2 linked regions of the Homo sapiens genome follow. The protein of the gene in region 2 binds, or shares a complex with, the protein of the main gene of each other region. Links are inferred from orthologs where the notes say so. Each region holds a gene or a part of one and is shown on either strand. Other genes may lie near its edges.

The links.
Region 1: the proteins of BRME1 (region 2) and HSF2BP are in contact, whole or in part, in a crystal structure (PDB 7Z8Z), measured with the Mus musculus proteins. The link is inferred for Homo sapiens from one-to-one orthologs. Residues at the interface, in NP_083321.2 of Mus musculus: Met541, Gln542, Asp543, Ala544, Thr545, Val548, Arg549, Leu551, Val552, Leu555, Ser556, Asn559, Ile562, Met563, Thr565, His566, Leu569, Lys573; in NP_083178.1 of Mus musculus: Glu23, Phe24, Val25, Lys26, Val27, Arg28, Asp31, Leu32, Arg34, Leu35, Glu38, Val39, Gln41, Ile42, Phe45, Leu46, Arg48, Ile49, Glu53, Leu54.

The regions. Positions count from the first base shown.
Region 1 is NC_000021.9:43,656,475-43,664,014, reverse strand, and holds the start of HSF2BP (heat shock factor 2-binding protein), read left to right. Parts: upstream 1-4,526; 5' UTR 4,527-4,629; exon of another isoform or gene 4,630-5,694; 5' UTR 5,695-5,918; coding exon 5,919-5,954; intron 5,955-7,277; coding exon 7,278-7,428; intron 7,429-7,540. Other genes in the region: RRP1B (ribosomal RNA processing protein 1 homolog B), read right to left, coding at 4,221-4,350. UniProt on the Homo sapiens protein: Meiotic recombination factor component of recombination bridges involved in meiotic double-strand break repair.
Region 2 is NC_000019.10:13,896,097-13,903,119, forward strand, and holds part of BRME1 (break repair meiotic recombinase recruitment factor 1), read right to left. Parts: intron 1-7,023. UniProt on the Homo sapiens protein: Meiotic recombination factor component of recombination bridges involved in meiotic double-strand break repair.

The DNA.
Region 1 (7,540 bases), on a different chromosome or scaffold from region 2:
AGCTCTGAAAGGCAAAGTACATTATCTGAAGCAGTTTGGTTTCATCAGTCTTGTCTTCTCTATTTTCTTCTTGGGGCTAAATTTCTTAAACTTAATACTACTGTTTTTACAACAATACAATATAGGTTTATTTATTTCAAAATGAATGAGGTAGGCCAGGTACAGTGGCTCACTTCTGTAATCCCAGCACTTTGGGAGACCGAGGTGGGCAGATCACCTGAGGTCAGGAGTTCAAGACCAGCCTGGCCATCATAGAGTGAAACCCTGTCTCTACTAAAAAAATACAAAAATTAGCTGGGCATGGTGGTGCATGCCTGTAGTCCCAGCTACTTGGGAAGCTGAGGCAGGATAATCGCTTGAACCTGGGAGGTGGAGGTTGCAGTGAGCCGAGATTGTGCCACTGCACTCCAGCCTGGGCGACAGAGCAAGTCTCTGTCTCTCAAAAAAACAAAAACAAAGGCTGGGCACGGTGTGGCTCACACCTGTAATCCCAGCACTTTGAGAGGCCTAGGCGGGCGGATCATGAGGTCAGGAGCTCAAGACCAGCCTGGCCAACATGGTGAAACACCGTCTCTACTAAAAACACAAAAATTAGCCAGGCGTGGTGGTGGGCGCTCGCTACTCGGGAGGGTGAGGCGGGAGAATTGCTTGAAACTGGAAGGTGGAGGTTGCAGTTAGCAGAGATCGCGCTGTTGCACTTCAGCCTGGGTGAAAGAGTGAAACTCTGTCTCAAAAAACAAAAACACACAAAACAAACGAGGTAAACATCAAAGTGAGACATGTAGACATGTGAAATATTAGTAAGTTTTGAAATGAGCAAATCCAACAGCCACTCTCACCACGCAATGAGCCCAGAAGCCATTTTAGATGGGGGTAAAGTGTTAAACTTGAACACACCCCAGTGTCAGAACATCCACAACTTCTATTTATTATAACTCTTGGATAGAGAGAACCCTAACCCCATCATTATAAAAAAACTTATATCCTCCATCATCTACACTGAATCTAATATAGCATCAACCATAAGATGTACTGTTATTTTGTATGCTGCCAAAAAGAAAGCAATGATACAAATGAAATTGTCACTGGGTTGATTTTGGGATGCCTCCCCATTTTAGTCAATATTTTTAAAGTTGCAGAACTGATAAGATAGGCAGGGATGGTCTGTTTTGTTCACTGCTATATTCCCAGTGCCAAGAATAGCGTACATAATAGTACACAGTTGGCACTCCATAAATGTTTGCTAAATATATGAATGAATGAATGAATTGGGACAAATAAGCTCTTATGGATGAAAGCCATGGAGAGTGATCATTTTATGACTGTGAGCACCCAACTTGAACAGTTAAAGCAAGAGCGCAACACTGTTACTTAAAGCAATACAAAGATTTCCAATTTATTTTTAAAATGACAAAGCTATCTATTGATGTTGCTGCAGAACAGCTCATGTTTCAGGAAGAGTGATAGCTCACATTTCCTTTATGATGCCTAAGACAAGATGCAGAAAAGTTGGAGCCTGTCATCGGGAGTCGAATGTCAGGCCAAGTTATTTCCAAACTTGTGCTGTAATTGTGATGGGGCATAGCTGTGGTGGAGACCTTGTGTTTTCTTGTCCCATTATCACTGTCCACGACGTTCATGCTGCGGAGTTATTTTCTGAAGGTCCACTGTACTCCATGCAATGTGGTGGTGAACAAGATATACAAGACAAGTCACTCTGGGTGTGATAGGCACTAACCAGACAGGACTCTGGAGCACTGGTGTAAACTGGTCTTAGGCCCCCGCATAACCTCTGCATTTGCAAATCCTGGGCTGGCTCACCAAAGGGTTTGAGCAAAAGGCTCTGTCTAGGCTGTCTTAGCACCGTAAGTATTGCCTCTGGTCTTCCACTCTTGTACAGGCCAAGACCTTTTACGGTTGCATGTACTCCCACTTCTGGCTAAGAAAACAGATGGAAGCTTACGGTGTTTCGGGAGAAGGATGACACATTGATAATTAAGAAGCAATGTAGCTAAGTGCTACAACAGAGACACAATGGATGTTTTAGAACCCTGGAGGAGTAGGGCAAGATGCTAGGCGAGGCTTTTTGAAGGAAGTGATACTGAACTGAATGCTGGCAGTGAAGAAGGTGTGGGATTCTTTGCAGAGTGAACAGGAGAAGCAAAGGCAGAGAGGTGAGAAATTGTGTGCTGTACACCAAGAACCATCACCGATTCTGTTGACGGAACATGAAGCAGTTACACGGGGCTTAGGCAGGAAGAGCACCTGAGGACAGATCATGACTTGCAGACACTGAATTTCAAAAAATATTGGTGATGTGGGATCAGATTTGTTTTAGGAAGATGACCCTGGGCTGGTCTGTGGAGGACAGATTCCTGGGGACACAAGTGAAGTTAAGGAGACCAGTTGGGGAATATGCGGGCGCAGAAGTTTCGGTGAGATACAAAGAGCCCACGGTCAAGAATTTATGTCATCAGGAGGTGAACGAGGGAGGACGGGGGTCCTCCCACTGGATGTGGGCCAGGGGAAGAGGATGAGGAATTCAGAGGAGTCCAGGACAATCCCGTGTGTCCGGCTGGAATCTGAATGGCTGGTGGGAACCAGCAACCAAAAGAAAAGAAAACAGGTGGCAGTGGAGCAGCAGCAGAGAACAGGATTTCGGGGAAAGAAAACAGAACTTTTTTTGGCATCCTGAGTGTGAGGTGCCAGGTAGAGAAGCCAGGCTAGCAAGGCACATCCGAGCTGCAAGTAGGAATGGGCTGGGACAACAATTTAGGTTTAGAAACCACCAGCATATATGGGGTACCTGGAACTGTGAGACTAAACAAAATCTCTTGGGGAGATTCTTAACAGAATCAAAGTCAGGAATTTTGGTCTTTATTCCTTTTTCTATCAGACTTCCCAGGAAAGTGTATTTTCTTTTTTTGGGTAGTCTGGTGATTTCTCTTAAAAATAAAACAAACTGAGAATGTCAGTGATGGGGGAGATAATATCTGTTCTTTTAAGCAGATTCTAAATGTATTAGTACCATCAGTAACTAAATAAAACTTTATCTTAAAACCTCTATTACACATTGTAGTTCATATTGTATGGGCTCACTCAAGAGTTTATAGAAAGTATTTTTGGATCAGGTAAATGAAATCATCCAACAGCAGTGCCGTTAAAATCTAAACTACAAAGCCCTGTGTGATCTGGCCACTGCCTACATCTCCAACTTCATCTCATAACACTCGCCCCCCCAACCCCAACTTATTGGTCTTTCAAACCACTCCTAGGGCACGTGAAGCTCTTTCCTGCCTCTGCATAGGCGGTTTCCGCTCATTTCTCTTCAGATCTGAGCTGATTATCAGCCCAGAGAGGCCTTCCCAGAACAGCCTATCAAGAAGAGCAACCTCCTTCCCTTTTTGCTATTATCTGGTTTTCTTTTTCCTTTTTTCTTTTCTTTTCTTTTTGAGACGGAGTTTCGCTCTTGTTGCCCAGGCCGGAGTGCAATGCTGCGATCTCGGCTCACCGCAACCTCCGCCTCCCAGGTTCAAGCGATTCTCCTGCCTCAGCCTCCCGAGTACTGAGATTACAGGCATGCGCCACCATGCCCGGCTAATTCTGTATTTTTAGTAGAGCCGGGGTTTCACCATGTTGGTCCGGCTGGTCTCGAACTCCCGACCTCAGGTGATCCGCCCGCCTCGGCTTCCCAGAGTGCTGGGATTACATGCGTGAGACACCGCGCCCGGCCTGCTACCTGGTTTTCATTTCCTTTACTACACTTACACAAGGTCTACTTTATTTGCCTGTTTGCCTCCTTGCTTTATTACTAATAGATCCTCGAGGGTAGTGATTTTGTCTGTCTTCTCTCCTGCAGCCCCGTCACGTAAAGGTGCTGGTCAAAGGAAGGCGGCAATCACCGACCGGACACCAGGGCAAATCAGGGCAGCCCAGTGATTCGAGATGCCGGCTGGGGAATCGGACCCATGTGGGTCTTTTCTCAGCTTCCCCGCTTACTGTGACTTTCATAAGTAACGGAACCCCCTCAACCCGTTTCCTTAAGTGTAAAAAGGCACTAGACACAGCAAGAAGCGGTTCCGGCAGCGCGGAAACCGAAGCACACGCTGGGTGTCACGACAACACGTGGAAGCCGCATTCCGTGCCGGGGCCCTGGCCCTAGCCCCAGCCCCGGCCCCCGGCCCGCCATGTGGCGCGGCTGACCGCGGCCGTGCGCCCACCTGTCTCCCTCTGCGTCTTCACGCTGATGTACTGGCGCAGCTTCTTCACCGCTCGGTCCCGGATGCCCTTCTCGCTGGACGCCAGCCGCTGGGCAAATTGGATCTCGGCCGGCTGCATGGCGGGGGCCATCGCGCCCGCTGGAGCATCCCCGGCCGCGCAACCCGCGGTGCCGCTGCAGCCAGCCGAGCGCTGCGGAGCAGCCAGCCACCGTCCGCCCGGGCCGCGACTGCACAGAAGGCGGCGGCGGCGGCGCGCGGGCTGATGGCGTCACAAAGGCGCCGCGGCTCGCAGCGCGCTCTGGGAGTGAGCGCGGCAGTGGCCCTGGCAGCTGGCGGAGCGGCCCAGCCCGTGTGCACGTGGCGCCGGCGCTGCCTTTCGGTTGCCAAAATTCAGGCTGTAGACGGCGAGGTTAGCCAGGGTTAGGACTTGACCAGGAAGAGACGGAAGGCTGTTTGTAAACGGTCTAGGATTTTTTGTTTGTTTTTGAGACAGGGTCTCCCTCTGTCGCCCAGGCTGGAATGCAGTGGCGCGATCTTGGCGGTGATCCTGGCTCACTGCAGCCTCGACCTCCCAGACTCGATCGATCCTCCCATCTCGACCGCCCAAGTAGCTGAGACTACAGGCGCGCGCCATCACGCCCCACTATTTGTTATTTTTTTGTAGAGACGGTGTCTCGCTATGTTGCCCAAGCTGGTCTCAAACTCCTGGGCTCAAGCAATCCTCCCGCGGCGGCCTCCCTGATCGCTGGGATTACAGGCTTGAGCCGCCGCGCCTGGCCACGGTCCAGGATCTTTAATCCCATTTAGCACACCTCGTTGAGCCAGCAGCTTACCTGCGATCTCCGTGGCGTGGAGTTTTTAACTGTGGAGCCCCCGGGCCCCCGGGTGGAGTTGAGACTGGAAGGAAAGGCCGGCACTGGGGCCTGTTGAGCGGGTGGAGGGCTCGCCTTCCTCCAGTGCCTGCAGAGGCTTGGGCAGATCGGTGCGCCCCTACCCCGGAGCCCTGGTGCCAGTGCAAGGGCGCCCGCGCAGGCGTCCCGAGGCCTGGCGAGCACGCGCGCTTCCAGGGGAGTTGGGCAGGGCGGGCTGCTTGCTAATTCCAGAGAGGGAAGAAATCTTAGCTTTGGGTTCATCTAAAACCCGAGGCCATCCTATATTTTGCGGACTCAGCGGGCGTGCTGGGGCAAGTTAATGGACTAGGTCACTCCACACGTAGCGGGGGTTATCTCAGTTGCTCCGCTCAGTTGTCTAGGCGACCTCCCGAGGTGCCTGTTGACACAAAAATTCAACCCTTAACGTAAAAGCGCCTGAATCCGAGCGAGGGAAGGCGCGCGGAGGCGAGGTTTCCAGCAAAGACTGCCCATTTGAACGCAGTCCCCCTTAGTGTAGCATTCCTCGCCAAACAGGAAAGGACCCATCCGATTTATTTTACTTGACACTTACATCAGGGGCTGACTTTCCTTCTGCTTTGCAGATAACAAGTTTAAAACCCCGGCTAAGCCAGAAGAGCCAAAGAGGGACCTCGCCAAGGCCACTCCTCGCTCTCTAGGCCGAGAATACTGCGCAAATTCTGGGAGGTTTGGGCCTGGCGGCTCTCCGTTCCCGACCCCCGGCGTGGATTCGTTCCCGCGCTTTCTGGCGTGAGGGGTCAGAGGGCGCGCCGACGCTCAGGCGAACGGAGCGGAGGCGGCAGCGGCCATGGGCGAAGCGGGCGCCGCTGAGGAGGCCTGCCGGGTTAGTGAGGAAGCCCTGGCCGACGCCAGCGTGTTTGAACCGTCGCCATTCGCTCCCCTCAGGGCCTCGCCCCGTGCGCTCGGAGACGGCTCGCTGTCGCGTGCTTGGGGGAAGCCTGGAGACTTCCTCCCCTAACGGCGTGGGCTGGGCCGGAGCGGGGTGGAGACCTGGGGCGGGAGGCGACTTCGCCTCCAAACCCACGCGGGGACCCGGTCTGTGAGGCTGCGCGTGGTGGGGGCACTCAGTGGCGCCAAAGCGGGCATGGGAGCGTGGGATGGATGGTCACTCTCTTCTCTGCTCCGTGGAAGCCCAGTTCCCCTCCGAAGGCCCTGGCCCCCTGCTTCGGGACTTAGCGTCAGGCTTAGAGAGAATCTGCCCTCCATCGATTTTATAACTGTAACTGATTGCATGCGATGGAGAAGGCGCTTGGACTGGGGCCAGATCCGTGTTCACATCCTGCTTCCACCCGTTATTAATTGTGCTGCATTGAGAGTCATCTAGCTCCCGTGCCTTAATTTCCATCTAGACAATCTTGGAGGCTTGGGGTGAATAGTAGATGAGATCACGGGCGGAGGGCTTGGCAAACCCAGTAGGAAACCAGATGACTTCCTTTTCCTCCTGATTAGTTTGGTGCTGCAGTGATAAAAAGTTGCAGGCGTTTTCTTTGACTTTTAGGAATAGAGCTCTTGTATGACTTTTCTTTTTCGTGGTCTTGCTCTGTTGCCCAGACTGGAGTGCAGTGGCACGATCATAGCTCACTGCAGCCTCCAACTCCTGAGCTCAAGCCTTCTTCCCGTGTCAGCCTGCTGCGTACAGGCGCCGGCCACCACACCTGGCTAATTTTTGTATTTTTAGTGAGATGGAGTTTCACCATACTGGTCAGGCTGGTCTTGAACTCCTGACCTCAGGTGATCCACCCGCCTCGGCCTCCCAAAGTGCTGGGATTACAGGCGTGAGCCACTGCGCCGGGCCTCCTGGGCACGTTTTCATATTTTTGTAGTGACAGGGTCTCTCCATGTTGCTCAGACTGGTCTTGAACTCCTGGCCTCCCAAATTCCTGGGATTTCAAGTGTGAGCCACCATGCCTGGCCTGTTTGTCCTTATTATTTTTAACATCTGGCTCCCTTTTTGAAGGCTGAAGCTTCAGCTTTCAAAATGTTTGTATGTACATAAAATATATCTATAGCAGAATATACAGTAGGTAGAGACATGATTTGAAACAACGATGCACATAAGAGGTGTGAAAGAAAAGCAAGTTAACTTGAGCTGTTGTTTTTTTTCTCATGTGAAGAGAAATATAATAAGATCTGCTTGTTCTTTTAGCACATGGGAACTAAAGAGGAATTTGTTAAAGTCAGAAAGAAGGATCTGGAACGGCTGACAACTGAAGTGATGCAAATACGGGACTTCTTACCCAGAATACTAAATGGGGAGGTGCTGGAGAGCTTCCAGAAATTAAAGATTGTAGAAAAAAGTGAGTCTTCATTTTCAGCAGTCATTGGTGGTAACAGTAATTTGTTCTAGCAGATTTACCCTAGGTAAATAATTGTAAACGAATTTTAAGGTACTCTTACAGTCCTTGTGAT
Region 2 (7,023 bases):
CCGTCTCTACTGAAAATACAAAAATTAGCCGGGCATGGTGGCACCCACCTATAGTCCCAGCTACTTGGGAGGCTGAGGCAGGAGAATCGCTTGAACCTGGTAGGCGGAAGTTGCAGTGAGCTGAGATTGCGCTACTGCACTCCAGCCTGGTTGACAGAGCGAGACTCTGTCTCAAAAAAAAATTAATATATATTATATATCATATATAAAATACATACATATTCATATTTAATATATACATACATATAAAATATATAATTATAATGTATTTACATATTGCATATTTATAATTATAAAATATATTATTTAAATTATATATTTATGATATATTAATATATTATAAACATTATATCCTTGTATTATATTATATATTTATATATGATATATATTTATTAAATATATACTATATATATTATATATCCCATTATATTGCCAGGTTGTTCCATGTGATCTAAAGCCAGGCCACGCCACCTCAGGATTCAGCCTCAGCCAAATATGTAAATATATATATTTATACATATGTATTTATACATACATATGTATTTATACATACGTATTTACATATATGTATTTATGTATTATATATACTATATATATATTTTTTCTTTTTTTAAGACAGGGTCTGGCTTTGTCTCCCAGGCTAGAGTGAGGTGGTGCAACTGTGGATCACTGCAGTCTTGACCTCATAGGCTCAAGCCATCCTCCCACCTCAGGCCACTCAAGTAGCTGGGACAAAAGGTGTGTGCCACCATGCCTGGCTAAGTTTTCTTTTGCTTTTGTTTTGTTGAGACAGGGTCTCATATGTTGCCCAGGCTGGTCGTGAACTCTGGCGCTCAAGTGATCCTCTTGTCTCGGCCTCCCAAAGTGCTGGAATTACAGGCATGAACCACTTTGCCTCGCCAGAATCTATCTTTTGAATTAAGAAAACTCCCTTACATCGAAACTTTTTTTTTTTTTTTTTGAGACAGAGTCTCGCTCTGTCACCAGGCTGGAGTGCAATGGCACGATCTCTGCTCACCGCAACCTCTGCCTCCCGGGTTCAAGTGATTCTCCTGCCTCAGCCTCCTGAGTAGCTGAGACCACAGGCACGCACCACCACACCCAGCTAATTTTTGTATTTTTAGTAGAGACAGGGTTTCACCATGTTGGCCAGGATGGTCTCGATCTCTTGACCTCATGATCCGCCCGCCTCGGCCTCCCAAAGTGCTGGGATTACAGACATGAGCCACCGTGCCCAGCCACATCAAAACTTTCAATAGTGGCTGGCTTGTAAGACTTCCCCAAGCCTGGCCCCAACCTAATCATGCATTCAGTGAACAAATGATAAGGGTTGACTCTAGTGAGTTCCACACCAGATGCTGTCCTAAGAACTTGTGTGTGTTAAGATAAAAGCTCAAGGCAGGGTGCTGCTGTTATGCCTGCCTTACAGAAGTACCTTGAGCAATTCAATATTATCTTTGTCCATGATTAAAATATTGGCCTTTGCCACCAGCAAGGAAAGATGCCAGCCTGTAATCCCAGGACTTTGGGAGGCCGAGGCAGGTGGATTGCTTAAGCTCAGCAGTTCAAGACCAGCCTGGGCAACATGGCGAAACCCTGTCTAAAAAGTACGAAAATTAGCCAAACATGGTGGTGCATGCCTGCAGTCCCACATACTTGGGAGGCTGAAGGGGGAGGATGACTTGAGCCCAGAGGAAGAGATTGCAATGAGTCCAGACTGTGCCACTGCACTCCAGCCTGGGCAACAGAACTAGAGCCTGTCTCAAAAAAACATTTAAATTAAACATTTAAATTAAAATAAATAAATAAAAGGGCAATATGGCAAAACCCCATCTCTACTAAAAATGCAAAAGTTAGCTGGGCATGGTGGTGGGCACCTGTAATCCCAGCTACTTGGGAGGCTGAGGCAGGAGAATCGCTTGAATCCGGGGGGCTGAGGTTGCAATGAGCCAAGATGGCGCCACTGCACTCCAGCCTGGGCAAGGGAGTGAGATTCCATCTCAAAAAAATAAATAATTAAATTAAATTAAAAGGAAAGGAAAGATGCGAGAATTGACACCCAAGGGCCCCAAGTTCCCAGAGAGGTGAAAACGTTAAGGCACACAGAGGCCCAGGAACCAAGGCTGGCACCCCGTCCAACTCCAGAACCAGCACACTTAAGAATACTTGAGCATTTACTGAATGCCTACTATGTAGTAGATTTCTGCCAAGGCAGGCAGAACAAAAAGACAAACCAACAGCCAGGTGTGGTGGTGCACACCTGCAGTCCCAGCTACTCAGGAGGCTGAGGGGGTAGGATCACTTGAGTCCAGGATCTCACTTGGGTAACACAGTGAGATCCCACCTCTATAAAACATTTAAAAATTAGCTGAGGGTGGTGGCATGCACCTGTAGTCTCAGCTACTCAGGAGGCTGAGGCAGGAGGATTGCTTGAGCCCTGGAGGTTGAAGCTGCAGCAAGCCGTGATTGTGCCACTGCACTCTGGCCTCAGCAACAGAGCTAGATCCTATCTCTAAAAAAAACACTAAAGAATAACACTATCCAGGACCAGGCGCAGTGGTTCATGCCTGTAATCCCAGCACTTTGGGAGGCTGAGGCGGGCGGATCCCCTGAGGTCGGGAGTTTAAGACCAGCCTGACCAACATGGAGAAACCCTGTCTCTACTAAAAATACAAAATTAGCCGGGCATGGTGGCTCATGCCTGTAATCTCAGCTACTCAGGAGGCTGAGGCAGGAGAATCGCTTGAACCCGGGAGGCGGAGGTTGCAGTGAGCCGATATCGCGTCATTGCACTCCAGCCTGGGCAACAAGAGTGAAACTCCATCTCAAAAAAAAAAAAAAAAAAAAAAGAATAACACTATCCAAACCCCAGATGGACTCTTTCCAACCTCAGCTCTACATTACACACTTACACATCGTGAAGTAAACCTACTGAATGAGTCTCTCTTTCCTCGACGCCAATTGCTAGGGTCTGCATCAGTCCCCATTCAGCTGTTTGCCCTCCACTAAACCACAGCAATCTTCCTGTAATTGCTTCTAATTCTTCTTCTTCTTCTTTTTTTTTTTTTTTGAGATGGACTCTCGCTCTGTTGCCCAGGCTAGAGTACAGTGGCATGATCTCAGCTCACTGTAACCTCTGCCTCCTGGGTTCAAGCAATTCTCCTGCCTCAGCCTCCTGATTGGCTGCGACTACAGGTGCAAGCCACCATGCCTGGTTAATTTTTTTGTATTTTCAGTAGAGACGGGTTTTCACCACGTTGGCCACACTGGTTTTGAACTCCTGATCTCAAGTGATCTGTCTGCCTTGGCCTCCCAAAGTGCTGGGAATGCAGGTGTGAGCCATGGCGCACGGTAAGTTGCTTGTAATTCTGTCAGTTACAGTTCGGGAGTGCCCGTTTAGAACTTTATCCCACTGCTGTGTATTTGCTTAGCTCTCGCTGAGAGAAGCATTTTCCTTTGTCCTCTGACTACAGCTGGAGGATCTCCAGGGCAGGAACTGAGTGCAATGCACCCTTTGATCTCCCCTTCGCCCTGCCCTGCCCCATCAGGTGCCCACCTCAAAGGATGTACCACCACAAGTAAAGCTCCGATGGACATTGCTTATAGAAACACATTCCTAACCGTCCGGGTGCAGTGGCTCATGCCTGTAATCTCACCACGTTGAGAGGGTGAGGTGGGCAGATTGCTTGAGGTCAGGAGTTCAAGACCAGCCTGGCCAACATGGTGAAACCCTGTCTCTACTACAAATACAAAAAATTAGCCAGGTGTGGTGGTGGGCACCTGTAGTCCCAGCTAATCAGGAGGCTGAGGCAGGAGAATCACTTGAACCCAGGCGGCGGAGGTTGCAGTAAGCCAAGACTGCACCACTGCACTCCAGCCTGGGTGACAGAGCAAGACTCTGTCTCAAAAGAAACACGACCTTGTGGTCTGCCAGAAAAGACAAAATATAGCTGCTTTGTTTATTTGGTTTCTTGAGATTCTCAAACACTTGCTCACTTGGCTGACTGAATGGCCATTTGTACCAAATAAAAAGCAAAAAAATATCAATGGCATTGAAGAGTCTTCTCTTTCCTTCCTGTGATCTGTCCACATGGGACTAATTTAAGAAAAAATAAGGCAGAACCTTGTGTTCGACACCAAAGACTAAAGACATTGGGAGGGAAAAGGCCTCTTTCACCACCTGCCAGAATTTTCTTCCTCTCTCTCCACCCTTCCAGCACACACAGAAAGGGTTGTCCAGGGCCAGCCCAGAGGTCCACTGAGCTGGGGAGTCTACCGCCAACAGAGGCCCCAAGTGACCTGCTGTGGGTGGACCTGGCTGTCCCCAGCTTCCCCCTCCAAGGTCAGAGAAATTCTGATGCCTCCAAGCAGCCTGTTGCTCATCTCTGCACAAAACATGTTCAATCTGCTGATCATTTCCTCTCCTGTCCCATATCTTGGGGGAAAAAACATGCACACCATTCCCTAAATTCATCAGCCACTAAATTAAAAAGTCATTTCAAAATTTTGAAGAAATTTAACTTACTTTAGAAAATGATAGGCAAATGGAACTCTACTACATCATATTGGGAGTTTGTCTTTCTGACTTGGTTTGTTCCTTTTTTTTTTTAGACAGAGTCTCACTCTGTCGCCCAGGCTGGAGTGCAGTGGTGCAATCTCAGCTCTCCTGGGCTCAAGCGAGTCTCGTGTCTCAGCCTCCCAAGTAGCTGGGATTACAGACACATGCCACCATGCCCGGCTAATTTTTGTGTTTTTAGTACAGATGGGGTTTCACCATGTTGACCAGGTTGGTCTCGAACCCTGACCTCAAATGATCCATCCACCTGCCTCGGCCTCCCAAAGTGCTCAGATTACAGGCATGAGCCATCGTGCCCAACAATCTTTCTTTTTTTCTAAGAGACAGGGTTTTGTTCTGTGGCCCAGGCTGGAGTGCAGGCGCAATCATAGCTCACTGCAGCCTGGAACTCCTCAGCTCAAGCCATCCTCCTGCCTCAATCTCCCAAGTAGCCAGGACTACAGGTAGGCACCACCACACTGGTTAATTAAAATTTTTTTTTTTTTTTAGAGACTGGGTAACATTATGTTGCTCAGGCTGGTCATGAACTCCTGGTCTCAGGCAATCCTTTCACCTCGGCCTCCCAAGTAGCCTGGAGTACAGGTGCGTACCACCAAGCCTGGCTATTTTGGGGTGTTTTTCTTTTCAAATGATGAAATTGTATAGGTATGTTGACAAGTAAACATGGTCATGATCTACCACAAAGTGAAAAATGGAGGTTGCAGATCAGTAAGTGTGATGATTCGATTTTCCAATAAAAACATTTTATCTGGGCCAGGCACGGTGGCTCATGCCTGTAATCTTTGGGAGGCTGAGGCAGGCGGATAACTTGAAGTCAGGAGTTAGAGAGCAGCCTAGCCAACATGGTGAAACCCCGTCTCTACTAAAAATGCAAAAATTTGCCAGGCATGGTGGCAGGTACCTGTAATCCCAGCTACTCAGGAGGCTGAGGCATGAGCATCACTTGAACCCAGGAGGCAGAGGTTACAGTGAACCAAAATCGTGCCACTGCACTCCAGCCTGGGTGACAGAGTGAGACTGTCTCCAAAAAAAAAAAAAAGAAAAAAGCTCAACACTGTATCTGTATATATACAGAAAAAGTCTGACCAGGCATGGTGGCTCATGCCTGTAATTCTGAGCACATTGGGAGGCCAAGGCAGGTGGACTGCTGGAGCCCAGAAGTTCAAGACCAGCCTGGGCAACATAGTGAGGCCTCGTCTCTTCCAAAAAATACAAAAATTAGCCAGTCATGGTGGCACACACCTGTAGTCCCAGCTATTCCGGAGGCTGAGGTGGGAAGATCACCTGAGCCTGGGGAGGTCGAGGCTGCAGCGAGCTATGATTGTGCCACTGCTCTCCAGCCTGGGCGACAAAGCAAGACTCTGTCTCGAAAAAAAGAAAAAAAAAAAAGCTGGGTATGGTGGCTCACTCCAGTAATCCCAGCACTTTGGCTGAGGCGGGCAGATCATGTGAGGCCAGGAGTTCAAGATCAGCCTGGGCAACATGGTGAAACCCCATCTCTACTACAAATACAAAAATTATCTGAGCGTGGTGGCAGACACCTGTAATCCCAGCTACTCAGGAGGCTGATGCAAGAGAATCGCTTGAAACCAGGAGGCGGAGGCTGCAGTGAGTCAAGATCGTGCCACTGCACTCCAGTCTGGGCAACAGAGTGAGACATCATCTTAAAAAAAAGTCTGAGCTGGGCGCGCTGGCTCATGCCTGTAATCCCAGCACTTTGGGAGGCCGAGATGGGCGGATCACCTGAGGTTGGGAGTTCGAGACCAGCCTGACCAACATGGAGAAACCCCATCTCTACTAAAAATACAAAAAAATTAGCTGGGCATGGTGGCATATGCCTGTAATCTCAGTTACTTGGGAGGCTGAGGCAGGAGAATTGCTTGAATCTAGGAGGCAGAGGTTGCGGTGAGCCGAGATCGCGCCAGCCTGGGCAACAAGATCAAGACTCTGTCTCAAAAACAAAAACAAAAAAGTCTGGGCTGGGCGCGGTGGCCTACTCCTGTATCCCCAGCACTTTGGGACACCAAGACGGGCAGATCACCTGAGGTTGGGAGTTCAAGACCAGCCTGACCAAACCCTGACTCTACTAAAAAAATACAAAAATTAGCTCAGCATGGTGGTGGGTGCCTGTAATCCCAGCTACTTGGGAGGCTGAGGCAGGAGAATCGCCTGAACTTGGGAGGTGGAGGTTGCAGTAAGCCGAGATCGCGCCACTGCACTCCAGCCTGGGCAACAAGAGCGAAACTCCGTCTCAAAAAAAAAAAAAAAAGTCTAGAAGCAGTGTACCGAGGTTAGAGTCCTGTCCTGTTTTTCATGCTGTTCTACAGTTGATCACTGTCCTATGGCTATGCTAGATGTCAACATTAGGGAAAGCTTGGAGAAGGGTAGCTAGAACTCTCTGAATTATTTTTGCAACTTTTCTTTAAGTCCCAGATTACTTCAAAATA